Linked DNA regions of Homo sapiens: all the other regions are linked to region 1. A link means that fine-mapping ties the variant in region 1 to the plasma level of a protein whose gene starts in the linked region. Region 1 holds a variant in brackets. A gene starts in each other region. All regions are shown on their reverse strands.

Region 1 (4,349 bases):
ATAAATATAATTCTTTCATATTTCTAACACTTTCACATTGCAAATGAGGTACATAGGCCACTTTATTGATGAACAACTTTCAGAACCTAAATCTTTAAAATTGCTGAGCCAAGCTGCAACACTAAAATACATTATCTAAATTGTGCATGAAAACAATAAAAGACCATGAGTACTATTTTTTAGTACTACAAGTCAGGGAAGATTAACTTGAATTTAAATAACAAATAAAAGTTACCACAAAGGGAGCAAGCTTTTAAACTGTGAAATAGCTCTAGCTCTACAGTAGAAATCTTATGGTTTTCATATGATAATTTTTTTCAACATATCTTTTTCTATTTTTTAATTCAAAATGTAAAAGTAAATTATACCTCCAAGACCATGTTTTTCTCATTCTTTGTTTCAACAAATTGCTGATCTCTTTCAAAACTGTCATTTTCTGAAATGAGCAGTAGTGTACACAGAGAAATAAAAGAGGTTATCCAGAGAAATTGCAGGTGCTTCTCCAGCCTAACCTTAATGACAGTTTATTGCTGGTCCATGGGGCCCAGTTTTGTTTAAGCAATTATCAGACTGCTTTATTTATGGCGCCCTTGTGCCTGTTTTTGGCAATGGGGTCGCAATAAATTATCAAAATAACGTTAATGTTACAAGAATAGGCTACTTTAAAAATAGGTGGCACCAATTACAATTGAAGGAGAATAGTTAGATGAAGATTTAAATTATGCCAATTGCTCCTGGGAAATTGATGGGATGGATCAAGAGGATCTTCCCTGACTTCTAATACATGCATGCGCAGGGTTATTTCTCACAATTAAAATCAGAAATGTTAAAGGGGAACTTACAATGAAAGAGAAAGCCAATTAATCTAGTCATCATTAATCACTGAGAAAGACACAGTAGTATACTTAGTAAGTGTCCTAAAGCAGCATCCAGAGAGAGGGAGAGAGACCATCAATCCCAAAAGACTCAAAAAATCTTTAGGGAGATGTAGAATTATGCCAATAGTTTGCATATTATAACGATAAGACAAAGCTGGGAAGGCCTGTTCTGATATAACTTGCATGCACAGTCACACACCTGGGACCACGTAGAATTTACTACTAAAACGTGAATGGCAATTAATGTACAAAATATGAAAAACAAAGTTCAAACAATATGTGTTTGCTGTCAAGATTACTTCTAAGAAAATTTGTAAGGCAAGTTTTGAGTTGTAAGAGGCTCTTAGAAATAGAAACTGTGCTTTGTAAATCATACTGTAAGGCCAGATTAAAGAATTTCATAGAGAGATATTCACACTTAAGACTAACAAATGCTTCGATTTTAGAATAATTCATGAATTTGCTATTTTCTTCATGATGTCAGCTCATGTTTGGTTATTTGCTACTGATCATTTCATCTTCCCTTGCTTACAATTCCAGAATCATTTTATTAATTTATTTAATTATTTATTCATTCATTTATTCTGCTTGGTCAAAGTTTCAGGTGTTAAATGATATAGGCTTCATCACAATAGCAGATTTCTTCCCACTTTTGTTTATGTCTATCTGATTATGGTATCAGCATTATTTTTTCTTTCCAACTTTAGAGCTACAATACTCAGGTAAAGTCGGTCCCTGGGATTTAAAACTCAAAATAATTGAATAATATGACACCACAGTGGTAGAAACATGCTTCTATTAATATGAATAAAACAGAATCACAGGGTAAATGCACATATTAGACTTTTGTATGTGGTTGATTATAATGTATATATAATTGAGGATTGACCAAAGCATGGGTGCAATTAGGCATACAAGTTCTTCTTCATAATGGTATTTTTAGTGCCAAATATAGGTCTCCAAAAGGTTCTTGGTGGGTATACTTATTGTGAGATGGCATGATTTGTCTTTGATGCACACTACCCCATGTTAGAATGAGCTGTTTCATTTGGGGACACAACACAAGTAACAGCTCATCTGCTCTCATTTACAAGAGCTTCTATGTAGTAAAATTGAGAGTTGTGTTTTTTTCCAGCGAGTTCAATTATTTAGGGTAACCTCACTCCACATGGAACTCTTCCCCCAGATGTCCATGTTGTCCATATTGACAACTCCT[A/T]CCTTCCAAAATGTTTGTTGACTTCTTACCTTCTGGTTGAGCCTGCATTTGCCTCCTCTCCTTCCACCACACCTACCATCTTAATTTCTTTTTTCCTGCTCTACTTCTCTTATTTTTCATCACATATTTCTTTCAAATCTGCAATATAACTTACCTATCCATTATACTTATGACTTATTTGTTACTTTCTTCTTCAGGGTCAGATTTTCTTCTGTTTAGTTTATTCTTGAATTCCAAAGTGTTTGAGAAAAGAACTGGACCATAATAGGTACTGTGAAAGCTGATTATTTGAATTGGGGCATTCTCGTCATACCCAGTGAAAACAGAGTCAAGAGGGCAGGGGCAAAAAGCACTCAGGACACAAAACATTGCTCTCCCAAAATGTAATTCACTGCAAGTCTGGCTGCTGAAAGTGCCTGCTGTAACCTCACAACTGTTTTATCTAATAGTTGCCAAACAAACCTGCTACAAATCTAAGATTTACTTTACCCACCATCAGTCACCAGTCAGACGTTCCAGCTTCCCAGAACCTTACCAATGCTAATGAACTTTCTCAAAGAGCAATAATTAATATTTCTTTTTTTAGTAAAACCTCCAGCCTTCTCTTCATTCTTCAGACATGCTGAAGACCACTCGGTCTGAATATATGCCCTGATTTGCAAATTATTTATTTCTTAATTAAATGTTAAATTTAGAGATTCCTCTTTACATTTCTATTTTGACTTCAACAGTCCTCATTAATATTTCCTGAATAAATGAATAAAAATATCAGAATTAATGTGCATTTTGAAAAATCTCTTATGAAATATGAGAGAAAAATCTGTTATACGCTTAGATCCTTAACTTGATCGGTATTCACCTTGTAATATGCTTTTATCTTATGTAGTCTGGTTTTAAAATGTTAAGGAAAAAAATACACTTAAAAATGGACCTAGTCATTTTTACTCAGCAGTACCATATCATTTGAAAAACGAAAACACTCTAAGGCGGTTTTGTTCCTTTGTTTTTGTTTGGTCTGATTTTCTTTCTTTTTTTTTTTTCCTTATGTGTTCAGCCTCTTTAATGTGAATAACTGCTCTTAGTTAAACAGTCTCACAGCATCCACTTACAGTCTCCAAGTTGCTTTCACATTCTTTGTAAAAATAAAAGCTCAGTTAAAGACACTACTTTCTTTTATGGTGCAATTTGTTTGCTCTTACACTGGTTCACTCTCTTTGCCATTTGATTTCCTCAGTTGAGCAATTTATGACAGATTTTTAAGGTCTACTGTCCATTACAAAGAGCAGGTTTTAAAAACTCCATCATCATCATAAGCTTAATGAGTAAATGGCTGGAAGCTCAGCAGCTTGGTGGGGGGAGTGTGTGGAGGTTTGACTCTGACAGCCAACTTGCTGTTGCTGTAATTAATAATGAAATGTTAAGTCTCTTGCTTTTTATGTGGAGACAGGGAAAGTGACAGGGATTATGGAGAGAAATAAATTTACATTGTAGCTTTATAAAGCATCCATAGCTTTAGGAGCTCAATATATACAAAATTACTGTTAACATGACAGTTCCCCAAGAAAGTAGTTACAAAAATATTTAAAGCTCTGGGCTGAAGAATCAGGACATTGTAAGAATGGAGAGGAAGAAAAGACACTTTCTTGTATCCTGTCCCTCCTTTCCTGCTGCTCAATTTCTTTCTACTCAGCTGCTTATAAAAAGATGAAAGATATGCTAACTTGTCTCCCTGAGTGAATCTATTCAATGTCACCACCCACGCACTTTCCAACAGTGACAAAAGTTCCTATCACATTCCTCTTCTCAACTCACCTGATGGATCCCCCAACTACACCCCACCCCCTATCCTAGAAAATATTATATTAAGAAGTAGAAGAACTGTGGGATTATCTGAATGAGACCTGCCAGTGAAGTCCATATCACTGACTATTAAGTCATGTTTACCACAAGCTAATAGCCCATAGCTCAAGCGGAACGCTCACCATCTCTAGCCTTGTCCTTCTTCCAAATCAGTGCATGTAGGCATGTGCTATCTTTGCCTATTAGAAGTGATGGGTAGAACTCTTCATCTACCATTCGTGGAATCTGAAGATGGTACAAGGTCATGATGGTCACGCTAGCTTGGTAAACTGGTGGAAAATTAAGTGCAGGCTCTCATAATGAAACAAAATATTATCTGAACTGAAGCATCTTGGATACTGTTCTCTGTAATTCTTCTCCCATTTGCTTATTTATTCCTTCTTGTTTTCCCTGTG
Region 2 (4,000 bases), not on the chromosome of region 1:
AAGTGGTGATGGGGGGACTCCCGGACAGGGACTCGGCCCTGGCCCCGGTTCCGGAACCAATGCACAGAGGCTGGGCGGTCAGGGCGGCTGAAGGAGCAGTTCAAAATGACCCAGTCGGAGGCTCTGAGAGATCCTGGGGGGCTGGCAGTCACTGTGCAAGGATAAAGAAGACTTCATCAGCCCACTGGAAACAATTTCCCAACACAGCAGGGCTGCCAAGCCGGAAGCTCCTGGAAACAGGCACCTGGCTTTAGACTTGTCTTCTCCTCTCCCACATCACCCTCTCCCCATCTCAGCTTCCAGCACCTGGAGGTGCATAAAGTGGATCCCCAAGACTCCCCAGGACCACTTTCCCCGTCCCTGGCCTGGAGTTTACTTGGCATCAGCCACCCTTGCCGTTTTCCTGGCCTGGAACCCCGCGAAGCCCACCCCCTGAGCTACAGATATCTGAAATGAATCACTTTAGCCCCATGCTCTCCCCCCCTCCCCCTCCCTCTGGGCACTCCCGCGTGGGTGGGAGAAGGGGAGCTCGGGGGTGACACAATCTCTCCACAGGGCCCCCCATACACGTGCTTCGGGGGCACCTTCCACTCCAGCAGGCCGCCCACCCCCTTCCTCTACTCTTCTGGGAGCTCTCCGACAGGGCCTAGGGCGCAGCCTCTGCCCCAGCCCTTCCTGCGTCCCGGGAGGCAGGGGATGGGGACCCACCTCCCAGCCCTTCTCCCATCGTCCCGCCCCACATACTCGAGGCCTGGCCCAGGCGCAGACGGAGGCGGCAGGAGAGGGCGCGGTCCCTGAGGTGCACCGCGGCGCGGTACTCGCCGGCGTCCGCGCGCCGGGCTGGGCGCAGCCATAGCGAGAAGTCCCCGCGCTGCCGGCCGCGCTCATCCAGCTGGACGCGGGGCTGCAGGGGCAGCCTCCCGCTGCGCAGGCCTCCGGGACCCACGCTCAGCACCGTGTAGCGGCGGGGCCTGGGCCCCCAGGAGGAGGGCGCCGCCGGGTGAGGGCCGGGGGCCAGGGGATGGCCGGGGGCGGCAGCGGGCGGGCCACTGGGCGGGAAAGAGAATGGAGTTGAGAAGCTCCAGGGGTAGGAAGCCCGGGAGGATGCAGGCAGCCACCCGTTGAGGATGAGAAAGCCCGCCCCAAGAGTTCTCTTGACCACCAACCGTCCCCTCACGCCCGACCCCTCTGTTGGACTGGCCGCATCCACTTCTGGAGAGAAGGGATGCTGGCGTGAGGGTCGCTGATTGCAGAGCAAGGGCAGGAACGGTGCAAGCGAGGGCAGGGAGACTGGGTCACTGGCTTCAGAGGGAGTGACACCTCAGGGCAGGGGACAGAGGACCGGCACGGGTGTGGGGTTGAGTGCTGGATTCGGAGGTCCTGTTGCCCAAGTTTGGGGTGCATACCTGTCTGGCTGATGCTGCCAAGTGACCCCTGCTCTTCGCAGAAGGCTGAGATCCTGGAGGGGGATTGTGGGGCTGCAGGGGAGCTGGGCAGGAGCCCCCTCCTGGGCCCACACCACCGGGACCTCAGCCCCTGGCTGGAGAGGCTTCACTAGGTGAGCAAAAGAGAGGCCAAGGGGAGGGGGCGTGAGCCGAGAGGCAGGGGTAGAGAAGGAGCCTGGGTGTTTCCCGAGGGAGAAACAGGGTGCAGGAAGAACTTGGGTTTCTGTTTCTTCTCTGCCCAGAGAGGCTTTCGGGGTGGAAGGACTGCCCAAAAAAGGGATTAGAAGAATCCACAGAGCTAAGGACCTCAGGACCTTTGTGGCCACAGAGATCCCTGCTGGTCCCCTCCTGTGGGGCTGGAGGTCAACCCTCCCGCCATCCCCGTTTTACCTGGAGCCACCCAAAGCGGCTGCAGAAACAGCAAGCCCAGGAACTGAGCCTCCCACATCTCTCCTATGGTCTGGGCAGCGCTGAGCCCTCCAAAAGGAGGTCAGAAAAGGAAAGGGGGCAGTGGTGGGGGGTGGGGGGTAAAGGAGAAGTTCTGCAGAGAGGGAGGTGGAGGAAGGGGTTCTAGAAGAAGGGAGACCAGGAGAGGGCCTTGGAGAGAGGGTGGGGAGGGATGACCAGAGGCCGGAATCCAGAGGAAAGCTGGAAAGCTGGGCAGATCAGGCAGCCTGAGGAGGTGGGGGCGGGGGTGTCCCAGGGAACAGAGCAGGGCCGTGGCGGAGAGCAGACAGAGCAAAGTGGCCGTCGTGGCTGGGATGCCGTTCTGCTGGTCTCTGGGCCTTCACCCCTGTGCCCGGCCTTCCCTCCACCTTCCCCACTTCCCCTCCTCCCGGCCCGCCCCCCGCACCCCAGGGCTTACGGTTTCGCTTCGCAGTGGAAAGTCTGAGGGGGTTGATTCCCAGCAGCAGCACCCTCCACCTCTCCACCTCTGTGGTGGCGCTCCCCTTGTTTACTTCCTCAGTCCTGGGTCTCCCCACCTCCCCCTCCTCGCCCCTGCCCCACCCTCCAGACTGCTCCCTCTCCCAGGGACCTTCTGCCTCCACGAACCATTTCTGCCTGGAACTGCCCCCTTGCCCATCTCTAAGCTGCCTCCTCAGTCCCAATATTCACACCTCCTTCTTGGCAAGCTCTTTCCTTGTTGCTCAATCTCCTTCCTCGTTCCCTTAACCTCCCAGAACTTCGTGACCCCTTTAGACCTGCCTTTCCACCCATCAGTACAATGTCCCTGGGAACATGGTGGACAGGAAGCCTTACTGCACCCCAAAAAATGGTAGGTCTGAGGCTAGGCATGCCAGCTTTGTGGGGCATGGAGAATAACTACATTGTATTGAGGCTTCATTACGTGCTAAGCACTGTATTGGACACTTTACTTATAGTAATTCATGAAATCTAATGCTTTTCCCCATTGTACAGATGAGGAAACTGAGCTTCAAAGAAATTGTACAATTTGCCAAGGTTAGGGAGCGTGAAGATAAAAGCTGTGAGTGTACCTGTGTGCGTGACAGTGTGTAGTCCTGACCTTGGATGAGTTACGGGCGTCTCCTGGGAGAAATGATGCTGTTGATGAGTCAACACCCCTCCCCACTCCAACTCAGGTCCCCATGCCCTCAGAAGCATCCTCCAGTCCAGAGGTTCCGAACTAAGAGGAGAAGGCAAGGGCCATGCGGAGATGGAGAAATGCAGAAATCTTAGAAATCTCCTAACAGAGATCAAACTCAGGGGAAACAGAGGCAGTGGGACTAGGGAAGGCCCAAGACTGACAAGAGTCATACAACTCCCGCTCCCCAGCCCAGCCCAGGGAGAGTTGGAGGGCAGGTGACGAAACATACAGCCGACCTGGGGATGACACGAGACCCAGGATTTCCCTGCTTGACTGGAAGGAGCTCGCTTCCATGCCAGGCAGAGGGCATCTCTGATGCCAGGCAGCTCACTCCAGATCCTAGCAGGCTGAGACCCAGGACTACCAGCCCTCTCCCAGCTCAGGGGAAGGACTTCCTGTTTCTGGGCTGTTTCTCTGTGCCTGGTTCAGCACAATAGAGCTGGTAGCTTTCCACTGGGCTCAGCAGTGTCTAGGTCTTGTGTGGGTTAGCAGGGAAGTGTGTATTGCTGGGGAGGAGCATCCCTGAGAATCCAAAACAGGACATAAGTCAGCTCTCAGAAGAGCTGGGCTCCAGGCCACCCCTGGAGGGCTGATCTTGTCTTCTTGAGTCGTGGGTGGTAGGAGTGTGCTGCTGCTTTTGTATCAAAGGGAAGGGTCCTGGCAGAATGGGAGGTCAGCCACCCTCCTCCCTCTCTACCCTTTTGTCGCACTGACTGGAGCCCCCGGGAAAGCAGGAGACAGGTTAAAAACAGAAGCGCGACCATTTCTTTATTAAATTATACAAAAAGGGAGGGGAGGGGGGCAGCTGTGGGGCTCGGCCCCAACCCCGGCCCCACCCCGGCCTGGCGCTGTCTGAGAAGAGGGGATCTGAGGGAGATCCAGGGATCAGGCAGGATAGGGATGGGGCAGGACATGAGGCTGGGGGATGCAGAGGTTAGGTGGGAGAGGC
Region 3 (4,314 bases), not on the chromosome of region 1:
CCTCAGCCTCCTAAAGTGCTGGGATTACAAGCGTGAGCCACTGCGCCCTGCCCATTTTTTAGTGTTTAAAGGCAATGCAGCCCTGCAGCATTTAGGTCTCCTGCACCATCATCATTATCGCCATCATTATCACTATCATCATCACCATCATCATCTTCATCATCACCATCATCATCATCATTATTATCACCATCATCACCATTATCATCATCACCATCACCATTATCACCATCACCACCATCATCATCATCACCACCATAATCACCAACATCACCATCTTCATCGTCATTATCACACCATCATCACCACCATCATCATCATTATCCCTATCATCACCATTATCATCATCACCATCATCACCATCTTCATGGTCATTATCACACCATCATCATCACCATCATCTTCATTATCACTATCATCACCATTATCATCATCATCATCATCACCATCACCATCATCATCACCATTTTCATCATCACTATTATAACCACCACCATCATGATCATTATCATCACTATCATTATCACAACTCTTTGCTGATTATCTTCAGGGCAGAATAGGGAGTGTTAATGGTTAATACCATTGCCAACACCCCAAAATAACAACTCTGCATGCCTACATTTGATGTCCACAGGCCACCTATTTCTTCTAATGTAGCCTGCCAGTCAACAAGTCCCACAGATCTAAACTCCCAAATTCTATCTATTATTACTAACAAAAATTCTTCTACTCATTCATTAATTATTTTAGAGGTAATTCAGCATGCTGTTTAGGCATACAAAGTCTGAAGTCAAAGTGCTTAGGTTTAAAAATCTGGCTTCACCAATTAATGATTGCGTGGCCTTGAGGAAGTTATTTAATCTCTTTGTGCCTCAGTTTCCTCCTTGGTAAAATAGGGTATTCAGATCCACTCTTCAACAGCAGAGGAAACCCATACTTGCTACTTAGAATATGTCCCCAATATCCTCCATTCTTAAATTTGATCCAATGACCAAAACACACAAGACATAGAAGAAAAACCAGAAACACAGAAGATAAACAAGGCTGAGACAAACTGACACCTGAAGAAAGAGAAATAAGAGCACAGGAAGGGTCTATCTCATCCTTCAGGACTCAGCTCGAACTGCCCCTCCTCAACCCCAGACTTCTCCCTTCAACATAACTCCCGACCACATTCTATAACAACTTCTTTCATAGCACTTATCACTACCTGAAATTCCTATGTTTACTTATTTTTTGGGGCAACATAGTATAGTGGAAAAGCTTACAGACTCTGAAGTCAGACTGTCTGGCTTGAAATCCTGCCTCTACCCCTTATTGACTAAGTGGCCTTGGGAAAATTATTTTATCTCTTTTGCCTCAGTTTTCTCATTTGCAAAATAGGACTAATAATGACCCAATGTCATAGAAATGTTGTGACAATTGGATACACTCTATGTTTAAAGAAGTTACAGCAGTGCTAAGTGGGCTATGATCATCTGTGCCTTCTTTCCTGTCTGCTCCTACCCACTAGAATATCAGCCTCAAGAGTGCAGGAACTTAGTCTTTTTTTCTCACTGCTATATCCTCTAGTGCCTAGAACAGCACCTGACACACAGGACTTGCTCAGGTCAAATGAATGACTATAGAGAAAAATCTATCCTAACAGATGGACTTCCCTGAGCTATGGAATTTTGTCAAAGGTTCCCTGAATGAAGGTGTTTGCAGCATCCAGTCTGGACTTATGATCTCTTGGCTGGACCATCCATGGCCCTCCCATTTCTCCTGAAGTCTATTTCCAATCCAGGCCTCCCCTAGCCCCCCATTCAGCCTCACACTCACCCCAGAAGAGGAGCAGGTTGAAGCCACGCATTATGCTGTAGTTCTGTCATTCAAAGAAAAGAAACTTTTCTACTAACGCTGGGTTTTCAGTAACCAGAAGGTGTGCGAAGAGGGGAAGGCGGAGTCAGAGTTGCTCAATGCTGCCTGGTCATCATAGCCCTTTTTGCTGACTTGCTGCAACTAAAAGACAGCCTAGAAAATCCTAATTTCCCCCTTTCTTCACAATAAAGAGAAGTTAATCTGCCTAATGTATATCATTCTCTCTCTCTCTCCTTCCCATGGTCTCTCCCTTTTTCTTTCCCATCAACATCTATCTCCCATCTCTCAACACCTTCTTTCATTGCACCCAATAAAGGAGCTTCCGCTTCCTGCCTCCAGTGAAGCAAATCTCAGCCTTTAGGGTCTCTTCCCAGTCTCCCGTATAAAGACAGCCATCACAACCATCATGTACCAGGCAGTGTGCTAGGCACATTGGCAACAAAGTGTAATTTCATTATCATGTTAACCTTGTAAAGTAGGAATTCCCCTCCCTCCCTCTATTCACCAACAAAATGGAAACTGAGACTTGCAGAGGAGTTATAACTTGTCCAAGATCTCTCAGACTTGAGATTTGAACCCAGGACCCTCTGATTCCAGAGTCAAGAGCTTTAACCATCTTATTTTCCTTCAGATCTCAACTCTGTCTGACGATTATACAGCAACACTTCCACCCCATTCCCAGCTTCCTAACTCTCTCTGGTAACATCTTAGGGTCTCACAAGGGCAGACCCTCAGACAAGGATTCTAGCAAAAGTAGTTTATCAAGAAGGTGGCCCCAGAAAGCACCAGCTGGGGGAGGAGAAAGTGAATCAGGAAAGGCAAAGAGCCAATACTGGGTGTGTCTTCAAATAAGTTACATGGTGAGAAAGTGGAACTTAACCTCCCCAGGGATGACTGGGGAGCGGCATGGAACATACTCTTCAGTTATTCCAACCGAGGGGTGAGGGAGCTGAGGTATTTATATCCCACCTACTGTCAGTCATGGGTTGACTTGAGGCTTGCTCCTAGAGGGTGTCAACCCCTTGAATCTTCAGGCCTGGCCTCCAAGCAGATAGAATGGGCTCCAGTTGATGTAATCCCACTGATAACAAAGTGTAGTGACTGGCAGATATTGAAGCAGTGTCATCCATCTGGGGTAATACCCGAGGTTCATTGCCTCACACCAAGGAAATAGAAAATACAGACATGGCCGGGCACCGTGGCTCACACCTGTAATCTCAGCACTTTGGGAGACTGAGGAGGGTGGATTACGAGGTCAGGAGTTCAAGACCAGCCTGGCCAAGATGGGGAAACCCCGTCTTTACTAAAAATACAAAAAATCAGCCAGTGTGGTATGGTGTTAGGCACCTGTAATCCCAGCTACTCCGGAGGCTGAGGCAGAGAATTGCTTGAACCCAGGAGGCGGAGGCTGCAGTGAGCCGAGATCGTGCCACTGCACTCCAGCCTAGGCAACAGAGTGGGACTCTGTCTTAAAATAAAATAAAATAAAATAAAATAAAATAAAATAAAATAAAATAAAATAAAATGCAGACACACAAAAAATTACTTTTAGAGCAGAGGTTTAGGCCGAGCACAGTGGCTCATGCCTGTAATCCCAGCACTTTGGGAGGCTGAGACGGGTGGATCACCTAAGATCAGGAGTTTGAGACCAGCCTGGGCAACATAGTGAAACCCCATCTCTACTAAAAATACAAAAATTAGCCAGGTGTGGTGGCTCATGCCTGTAATTCCAGCTACTCAGGAGGCTGAGGCAAGAGAATCGCTTGAACCCGGGAAGCAGAGGTTGCAGTGAGCCGAGATTGTGCCATTGAACTCCAGCCTGGGTGACAGAGCAAGACTCCATCTCAAAAAAAAAAAAAAAAAGAAAGAAAGAAAAGAAATTTAATAGGCGAGAGAAAGAGAAAAGCTCTCTCTCCTGCAAAGAGAGGGGGCTCCCAAGTGGGTCTTCCAGTTTCATGGTGAAATGCACGGGGTTTTATAGATGAGCTTTAGGTGGTGATATCTGATTTACATAAGGGCCCAAAGATTAGTTGGACCAGGTGTGCCGTTTACATAGAGTACAAAGAAGCTGGCTGCCCACCCTAATATTTTATTATGCAGATGGGGTCTCTACCTGGCCAGGACCATGTTGCCTGTTCCTTTACCGTACACGTGGTTGATAAAGAAAAGGGAACATGGAGCAAGCCTGCATGTTGAACACGCCTGGCACCCAGGTAGCCTATTCCCATTGGCACAGCTGCCGGCATTCACCCGAGCAAGCTTCCAGCTTGCTTTTCTATGTCTGCCGGCTGATTTTTCAGACTGCTCTTTTTTAGAAAAGAAATTATTTGGCCGGGCGCGGTGGCTCACGCCTGTAATTCCAGCGCTTTGGGAGGCCGAGGCGGGTGGATCACAAGGTCAGGAGTTTGAGACCAGCCTGACCAACATGGTGAAACCCCGTCTCCACTAAAAATA

Direction of the effects. Alleles are on the strand shown, and positions count from the first base shown. The strength of an association depends on the size of the effect and on how common the allele is.
In carriers of allele T in region 1, the plasma level of the protein whose gene starts at base 2,226 in region 2 tends to be lower than with A alone (weak association).
In carriers of allele T in region 1, the plasma level of the protein whose gene starts at base 1,882 in region 3 tends to be higher than with A alone (weak association).

The links. PIP is the chance, under the fine-mapping model, that this variant and not a neighbour inherited with it causes the effect. Protein levels are from antibody-based Olink assays in UK Biobank. Linkage for the fine-mapping came from a reference panel and not from the study's own genotypes, which makes the PIPs less certain.
Region 2: LAG3 starts here. The variant in region 1 is fine-mapped to the plasma level of the LAG3 protein (UK Biobank, PIP above 0.99).
Region 3: ADGRE1 starts here. The variant in region 1 is fine-mapped to the plasma level of the ADGRE1 protein (UK Biobank, PIP above 0.99).

Annotation. Positions count from the first base shown.
Region 1 is chr5:71,367,445-71,371,793 of GRCh38, reverse strand. The region is part of intron 2 of LINC02197 (long intergenic non-protein coding RNA 2197); the gene reads left to right. Among named protein-coding and RNA genes, the nearest start is that of LINC02197, 77 kb to the left of the region's middle. The variant A/T (reference allele first, on the strand shown) is at 2,095.
Region 2 is chr12:6,770,746-6,774,745 of GRCh38, reverse strand. LAG3 (lymphocyte activating 3) reads right to left here and starts at 2,226. Exons shown (of 8, transcript NM_002286.6): 1 at 1,836-2,226; 2 at 1,407-1,554; 3 at 745-1,049; 4 at 1-151. The coding sequence starts at 1,893. PTMS (parathymosin) reads right to left here. Exons shown (of 5, transcript NM_002824.6): 5 at 3,794-4,000. RefSeq lists a silencer at 637-966.
Region 3 is chr19:6,885,147-6,889,460 of GRCh38, reverse strand. It overlaps ADGRE1 (adhesion G protein-coupled receptor E1), which reads right to left and starts at 1,882. Exons shown (of 21, transcript NM_001974.5): 1 at 1,822-1,882. The coding sequence starts at 1,852. RefSeq lists an enhancer at 1,829-1,888.